Regions from separate parts of the Homo sapiens genome. Here all the other regions are linked to region 3. The links come from fine-mapping of genetic effects on gene expression. A gene starts in region 3. Each other region holds a variant in brackets. All regions are shown on one strand. Distances are between the middles of the regions.

The links. PIP is the estimated chance that this variant, and not a neighbour inherited with it, causes the effect.
Region 1: its variant is fine-mapped to the expression of PVALB in whole blood (INTERVAL, PIP above 0.99).
Region 2: its variant is fine-mapped to the expression of PVALB in whole blood (INTERVAL, PIP above 0.99).

The regions. Positions count from the first base shown.
Region 1 is chr22:36,852,074-36,854,831 of GRCh38, forward strand. All of the region lies in intron 1 of NCF4-AS1 (NCF4 antisense RNA 1), which reads right to left. Among named protein-coding and RNA genes, the nearest start is that of NCF4, 7.6 kb to the right of the region's middle. The variant A/G (reference allele first, on the strand shown) is at 1,334.
Region 2 is chr22:36,857,947-36,860,704 of GRCh38, forward strand. All of the region lies in intron 1 of NCF4-AS1 (NCF4 antisense RNA 1), which reads right to left. Among named protein-coding and RNA genes, the nearest start is that of NCF4, 1.7 kb to the right of the region's middle. The variant C/CTCTT (reference allele first, on the strand shown) is at 1,247.
Region 3 is chr22:36,815,731-36,818,488 of GRCh38, forward strand. It overlaps PVALB (parvalbumin), which reads right to left and starts at 1,305. Exons shown (of 4, transcript NM_001315532.2): 1 at 1,215-1,305. The coding sequence starts at 1,275.

The DNA.
Region 1 (2,758 bases), 36 kb after region 3:
ACAGCAGAATTCAGCAGTTGTGACAGAGACCAACTCCCTGCAAAGCCTAAACTATTTACTATCTGGCGTTTTTTAGAAATTATTTTTCAGCTGGGTGCAGTAGCTCACACCTGCAATCCCAGCACTTTAGGAGGCTGAAGCAGGTGGATCACTTGAGGCCAGAAGTTTGAGACCAGCCTGCCAACATGTTGAAACCTCATCTCCACTAAAAATACAAAAATTAGCGGGGCGTGGTGGCAGATGTCTGTAATCCTAGCTACTCAGGAGGCTGAGGTATGAGAATGGCTTGAATCCGGGAGGCAGAGGTTGCAGTGAGCTGAGATTGCACCACTGCACTCCAGCCTAGGTGACAGAGCGAGACTCCAACTTAAAAAAAAAAAATGAAAGAAAGAAAATGAAAAGAAAGCATTTGCCAATCCCTGCTCCAGTGTACTGGGTAGGGTACAGGTTCAGCTGCTGTAACAAGCATCAAAGAATCAGCTGCTAAAACACAATAGAAATTTCTTTCTCCCTGAAAAATCTGAACAGAAGCAGGGTCAGAGATCCAAGCTGTTTTGTTGCTTAACTGTTCTCCATAGCTGGCCTCTCCAGCCAGCTGGAAGGGGAGATGGGAAATGGAAGATACACCTTCTGTCTTTCACGACACAGCCTGATAGCATGTCCATGGCCTCCCCTCCCATTCTATTGGCCAGCAACTGGTCACATGGCCACAGGGAGCTGCAAGGTAGGCTGGGAAATGTTCTCTTTAGCTGGGTGGCCATGAGTCCAGCCACAACTCAGGGACTTTATCACTAAAGGAGAAAGGACAGAGTGGATCGTAGGGGATATTAGCAGTCTCTGCTACACCTTATCAAGAAGAATAAAGACAGAGTGCACAGGGGAAGGATTTGGCATTCCCTGCAGAGTATTAGAAAAAAATTTGTAACATGCTCAAATGAAGTAGGTATCAATAACGGATATAAAATACCTCCTTCTTCCACTTCCTCCCTCAAATATTTATTAAGCCCTCATTTATATTAGGCTCTATTTGGATGCATTTTGCAGATAAATAACCTGAAGCTCGGAGTGCTTGAGGGAGATGTCTGAGAGTTCATAGCCAAAGAGTGAGAGCTCTTTCTGCCTTATTGCCTTGCTTCCCTTGGGACACCCTGGGGCTGGGAGCTGGGCCTTGCAGCCTGCTAGGCTGGCTAGGTTTGGTGACACAGAAAGCAAATGAATAATTTTTAAAGTGAGAATTCTATAAAGGAGACTGCTTGAACAGATTCTGTTAGACTGAAAAGGCAGAAGGAGACACCGAGGTCACCAGAGATAGAAACTTCAGGAAGCAGCCATC[A/G]CCCCTGCGGCTGTGGGAACGGAAGGAAGAGAGCGGGGTTACGCTAGCCTGGAAGCTTGGAGGAGGAGACTTAGACCTGCGGGGAGGAGCTGGGACTCAGAACTGCAGACCTCTGAGGAGGGGGTGGGGTGAGACTGGCTCTGGGAATGTGAAAAAAACTAAAACCTAGAATCAACTGCTGCTGGGCCAACATGGCTTCCAGGGCAGGGCAGTTGGGTCCCGCCTGCAAAGAGAAAGAAGCAAGCCCCTCCTTCCTCTCCCATCCTTCCGGCCTCCCTCCAGCGCCCCCTCCTGGCCAAGGGCAGCGGAAATCAGCCAGCAAAGCAGAACAAACAGGGTTTTGAGTCCCAGCTCGGGCACCACAAAGCAGAGGGTAGAAGAAAGGTTTGGAGCTGGGAGAAAATCATTTAATAACCAGCCCCAAGGCTATGACTCATTTAGACCCCCAGTCTGTGCAGACCTGGGGCCACTGCCTCTGAGCCAGTGCACACCGGGTACTCTGGAGCCTCTGTCTTCTGATACATGGGTCAGGGGGAATGCAAAATGATTCAACCACTTTGGAAAACAGTTTCCTTCTTTTTGTTTGTTTGTTTGTTTGTTTGTTTGTTTGTTTGTTTGTTTTTAGACCGAGTCTCGCTCTGTCGCCCAGGGTGGGGTGCAGTGACGCGATCTCAGCTTGCTGAAATCTCTCCTGGGTTCAAGGGATTCTCCTGCCTCAGCCTCCCGAGTAATTGGGATTACAGGTGCCCACCACCATGCGTGGCTAATTTTTGTATTTTTAATAGAGATGGGGCTTCACCATGTTGGCCAGGCTGGTCTCGAACTCCTGACCTCAGGTGATTCACCCACCTCGGCCTCCCAAAGTGCTGGGATTACAGGCGTGAGCCACCACACCCGACCTGGAAAACAGTTTTCCTATAAAGTTAAATATGCATCTACCATATGACCCAGCAACTCTCTCTTAGATATTTACCCAAGAGAAATGAAGGCACATGCTCACTCAAACATTTATGCTTGATGTTTGTAGCCCCTTTGTTTTAACAGCCCCAAACTGGAAAACAAAAAAAAAACCCTAATGTTTATGAACTTGTGCATGGAAAACAACTTATGTTATATCCATACAATAAAATACTACTTGACAATAAAAAGAATGAATACCGATGTACATATCAACACTCATGAATTTCAAAAGCGTTATACTATGTGAAAAAAAACAGGCACAAAAGATCACATACTCTGTGGTTTTGTCCGAAATTTCAGAAATGGCAAAATACTGTGATAGAAAGTGGATCAGTCATTGCCAGGGCCTGGGGGTAGGGGAAGGAGATTGGCTGCAAAGTGTCCTGAGGGATCTTTTGAGATAATGGAAATGTCCTATATAATGATTGTGGTGCTGGTTACACAACTGTCCAAACCCATGGAATT
Region 2 (2,758 bases), 42 kb after region 3:
TTTATATTTCTTCTGTGAATAAAATATGCCAGTGTCAATGCATAGACTTTGAGCTATCAATTCTAACCATTCAATGGCTTTTCTCTTTTTTTGGTTTATTCACAGGCTGTGGGATGTGGAGGTTATCAAAAATCAGGTCTCCATAAGTGAGAGGTCACTTCAGGCATTTCTTTGCACTTATCCAAAAAAGATTCCATCCATACTTGTTTAATGGAACGTGTGAAGAGCTTGGCTCCTCTTCCAGGTCATCCCTCTGCCTCATTCTCCCCCTGCAGCAGGAGCAGCAAGAGCCCGGTTCTGGAGTGGGAGTAGAAGGTACAGGCATTGCTGCAGCGGCAGGACAGGAGCCCATTGCTGACAGAGTGCCTGGCCTCAAATTACACTGTATCAGAGCTCGGGCATAAAATTGGCAGCAGCGTTCTGTGTATGAGGAGACAGAGAAATACCTGTATTCAGCAGAACCACGGGCAGGGACAGAAGAAAAGGAGAGAAAGAGGGGAGGAGGGGAAGAGCTGGCCCGTCGCGGGCTCTTCCCTGGACATCTTTGTCCCCCAGGTGCAGAGGTGGCTTCCCAGTGGCTGAGTCAGGGCCACAGGAGGTTTCTTGGGGGGTTGGGGGGGCCGGGGTTTGGAGGGCAAGCCATGAAAATACCTGGGAAGGTAAACTTGAGGGCTTAACCCACCTGAAACACACACATACAGATATACACACTGAAAACGATTAAAAAAGGAATAAGAAATGTCCATGTGTCTAGGCACTTTTATACAGTTTTCTATTAATTCCTACTACAACTCCATTAGGCAAGACTGTTTCACAGATTGGTGAAGAAGAAAGGTTCAAAAAGGACATGTTATCTTGCCTGAGTTCACCTATTATAAATGTACTTGTGTTTATACTCATTTGTCACCGACTGCAACCTAAACATCTAAACACATTCTCTCACAGCCACAATGCCACCACTATACACATTATATGGTCTTTTATAGACACAACACAAATGCACTTACACTTGCCTATGCGAGCTGTATGTGTTTATACACAAATATGTGTTTCCAACTATAGGCATATACTACACACACAGTTTACACAATCACCTACAAATTCTGTATCATGCTTGCTTGCTAAAATTGTTTTGCCACTTCCTGTCCTTCCTGACCAACTGTAGGCCAATGTCCTCCTCTTCCCTCAGTTATGGCTGTGTGCTTGCACCTGTTGGTACTTACAGACACCTGCACTAATAACCCTG[C/CTCTT]TCTGTGTTTCATTTCATCCTCTAGCCTGGGAGCCCCGAGACACCAGCAACTCATCAGACTTATTGTTTGTATTATTTCTAGTTCTTTGGGTGTGAATTCTTCATGATGTGGAGGCTCTGAGCTGTCTTTCACAGCTCACGATTTGTAGTTTTGGTCTGTGAGTTGACAGAGTAGGCCCTGCAGAGTCACTGACTCCAAGCTGTTTTTATATAATGCCTCAGCTTAGGATTTCTGCACCACGTGGGTAGCTTATATCGGGGCCTTACACCAGTGCAGAGGGCAGGCTTGAGGCTGATCTGGTACACACGTCCCTTGTTCCACCCATGGACTGTGAGAGGACCTCAGCTCCTGCCGTGACTCTAGGCTGATGGCTGAGAAACTCTGTTCCCATAATCAGTTCTGACACCCACTTTACACTGAGAACTCAGATTTGACTTTCTGCTAACAGCAGGACCTGTGGCCTGTACCTAGTCCCAGATTTGGCATTAAAATCTCAGCCCAACAATGCATATCCAATCTTGGTTTTCCCATGGGCTGTTGGCCACGTTCCTCTCCCCCTGGTATAGATTCCTGACCCCTCTCTTTGATCCTACCTAAAAATTATGCTTTCTTGTTTTTTTTAGCTGGGACTTGTATGTTTAAAGTAGTTTAAAACAACTTTCTGCTCTGCATGTATGAATACGAGTGTGTGAGCGTGTGTAGCTGGCAGGGAGTTACTGGGTGTGGCTGTGCCAATGACTCCTGTGGACCTCTTCTCAGAGAAGTCCCTTCAGAATCAAATACCCATACCTGTTAGGAGCTGCAGTCACTGACTGGCAGCGTTTCATTCATTCACTGAATATTGGTTGAGCACTTGCAATGTGCCAGGCACGCTGCTAGCCAAGGAGGCAGTCATTAAACATACAGATAAACAAACAAATGTGAGATGACAATAGTTATGAGTGCTCTGCAGTAGACGTGCAGGGACCTGTGAGAGAATGTAGTAGGGAGGGCCTTAATTTAGGGTGTGTGGTCAGGGAAGGCCTCGCTAAAGATGTAGCTTCTAAGCTGAGATGCAAAGGAGGCAGTGAAGAGCTTTTTCCAGCAGAGGGAACACCATGAGCATAGGCCTTGGGGCGGACGTCTTAGAACATTCTAGAAACGGAAAGGAGGCCAGTGAGAAAAAGGGAGCTCAGGAGCAGAGGCTGGGGAAGGCTGCAGGGCCTCAGGGGCATTGGAGGCAGGCAGGGCAAGGACTCTGGACTTTATCCTGAGCACAGGGTGATGGGGCAGGAGAGTTTAAGCAGGGAGGGTGAAACTCACTCTGATTGGCAGCCCTGTGAAAGAGGATTGGCTGGGCATGGAGATCTAAGGATGAGGAAAGGATATCCCAGAGTGCCAGGGCGCGCAAACCAAACTTCACACTCTAGGAAGACAGAGGCCAGAGGAACCAGGAGGGCTTCCTGGAGGAGGTGGCATTTACTCTGGGCCTAAGAGATCACAGGAAAATGGAGGCCAGCATTCTAGGCCTG
Region 3 (2,758 bases):
ATACAGTGGGAGGAGGAGGGGCAAACCCGGAAGTCCTGGCTCTGCGCAGAAATCCACTTCGGAGGCAGTGGGAAGGGGGTGTTAGGAGGCTCCCGAGAAACACCCAGTTAAGTTTCTTCCCACATGGGCTTGAGGTGAAGGGAGAGGGTTATCCCAGGACCCTGGGAGGGTGGCTTCCCAGAGAGGTTCTTGTGCCCAGGGGAGGGGGTGCAAAGCAGAAAGGAAATGGGGGTCCTTTTCTACCTGCAATTTTCTGTATCTTGGGGTCCTGTTTTAGAACACCTGGGGAAGGGTACAATGTTAGATCATGTATTTTGTGTGTGTGTGTGTGTGTGTGTGTGTGTAGGGAATGGCTGTTGAAGTCATGTTCTCTTCCCCTCAGCACAGGGCTAGAGACAAGGAAAGTTGCCCTGTCCACCTCCGACACTAGGCTGGGCAACCCAGTTCTAATACCCCTTCTGCCCAGCTAGGTGACCTTGGGCAAATGTCTTGTCCTCTCCAAGACAGTTCCCTGATTTCCCCATCTGGAGGACAGGGGAGGAGGAAGGCGGGCAGCTTAGCGCTGAAGTCCCGGGCAGCTGGGAGAGGTGAGACTGCCAGTTCCCCTCCCCTGCCCGCCTAAGGAGGCTGGAGGTTTGAGGCACTGAGGATGCCCCGTGCGGGCTTAGGCAGAGCTGTGCGCCGGCTCCAGAAGGTCACCTCGCCCGCAGGTCCGTTGCTGAATCTCAGTAAAGGAACTAGGACAGTCAGGGGGCCAACAAAGGCTACCGCCTGGCGGGAAAAGTCCTGTCCAGAATGAGGGTCCAGGAAAGGGGTCTCTTGGAGAGGAGGATGCCCCCTGCAGTCCCCTCTAAGTGCCTTAAAGAGGACGTCCAGAGAGCTCGTACAAGGACCCTGGAGGTCTCTCCTCCGACCCTGGTCTTCGCCCTTGGTCCCGGACCCTGAGTCCTCCCAGCCACCGGGCCTTCAGCACCCTCAAGTTTCTGTAACTTAGGCGGGGCGCCCTCTTCCCCGCCCGCTCCCCGCGCCAAGCCTCGCCCGGACAGAGTTTGGGAACTGCCAAGGACGCCCCCGCCCCGACCTCGCCGGCGCCCAGCGGGAAGTGTGGGCAGAAGCGCGCTGGGGAGGATCCGCCGGCTGCGGGGCCGGCGGAGTGCAGGGGCGCGGGCGGTGGACGAGGGGAGAGGGATGGGGAGGGGAGCGCGCTTGCTCACCGCTAAAGGCTCCCACCGCCTTCTTGATGTCCTCAGCGTTCAGCAAGTCTGTCATCGACATCCTGCAACTGTTTGAGCGGGCAGAGCAAGTGCGAAAAGATTAAAAAGTGCTTTTCTCATCATTTCTGCTCATATGACCAGCGCTGCAGTGCTGCGCGCCGGGCGCACGCCCGCCGGGCCTGGCATGGCGCCAGGGGCCCGGACTCTGAGCGCAGCGGGAGCGGCTCAGTCCAGCCGCGCCGCTGAGCAGCGCCGGCCGCCGGCAAGAAGGCGCGCGGACCTGCTACCACTCCTGCACCGCCAGGCCAGGGGTCCGCGGGATCCCAGGGGCTGCGGCCAGGGCACGAGGGAAGGGGCCACCTCTGGGATTTAGGGGGCACTGGCGTCACCAGCTGGGTCTGGAAAGTCCACCTGCCGTCAAGGACACGCAGGAGGTGCGCCGTCTCAGATCTGGGAACCTTGGCGGATGTCCTGCCGCGTGGGGGAAGATCCTGAACCTTCAGCGGCCAGCCTGCACCTCAGGACCTCCTAGGCCCTGCTCCCTTTCTCTCTCCACTCCTACCTCAGCCTCTGCTCTGGTCTGTCCTGGATGCAAATTTATGCTGCAAAATCTGAGCGCTGAGGTCCTGAAACCTGACCCACCCGACGCAGGGAGGAGGTGGCAGGGACAGGGACAGGGACAGGCAGGAGCTGCTGGGGCCCACTTCGGGTGCCCCATCCCACATCTGGCCAGGGATGCATATTCTAAAACCTGATTTGATGTTTTACTTTTATTTTTTATTTTTTTGCTGGCTTGATTTTTCGAAGAACACTTCTCAGATCTCTACTAACTACTTGCTTTCCTGGTCTCCTGGGTCCTGGCATCATGGGTCCAGACTCCCCCTACTCCTATAAACCTTTTTTGGGCAGAGTAGGGTGGGAGAGTCCGCTTGGAATTGCTATGCTCCCTCCCAGAAAGCCCCATATGTGTTTGGAAGAAGGGTAGCACCTTCAGACCACACTTTCTAGACAACCTAAGCAGGTGTAGGGGTCTGAACTTCACCTCTGGAAAAATGTCACGGTGCCTATCTGTATGCAGCCAGAGACCCGTTGTGTTCTTCCCCATGGTTCCCAAGGTTTCAAGCTGCAACCAGCTGCTTCTAGAGTGTGTGAGCGCTGGACAGGGAGTCAGGAGGCCTGGGTTCTAGATCCTGGGCTGCACTAAGTCCCAGTGTGACCTTGGGTTGTGACCTTCTCTGGGCTTCTGTCTCCTTCTGATGTGTTGATGACGTCAGTGGTCCCATGTAGTGGGACCTGGGGACTGCAACTTAAGGTATTGGCAGGTAGGCAGGGCCTTGGGCTGTGGTGGCCCTGGGTGGTGGGGACCAGGGAGAGCAGCTGTCCAGCTGCCCAGTAACTCAAGTTCCCTGACATCGCTGTCAACATTGTCTCCTGCAGCTCAGCCCTGGATGGCTGCCCTTCCTGGAAACCTTAGGATACCTCTGCTGGCTCCAGCTGCCCCCTCCCTGTGAGTCAGCTCCTTCAAGCCACAGCCCGCCAGATGG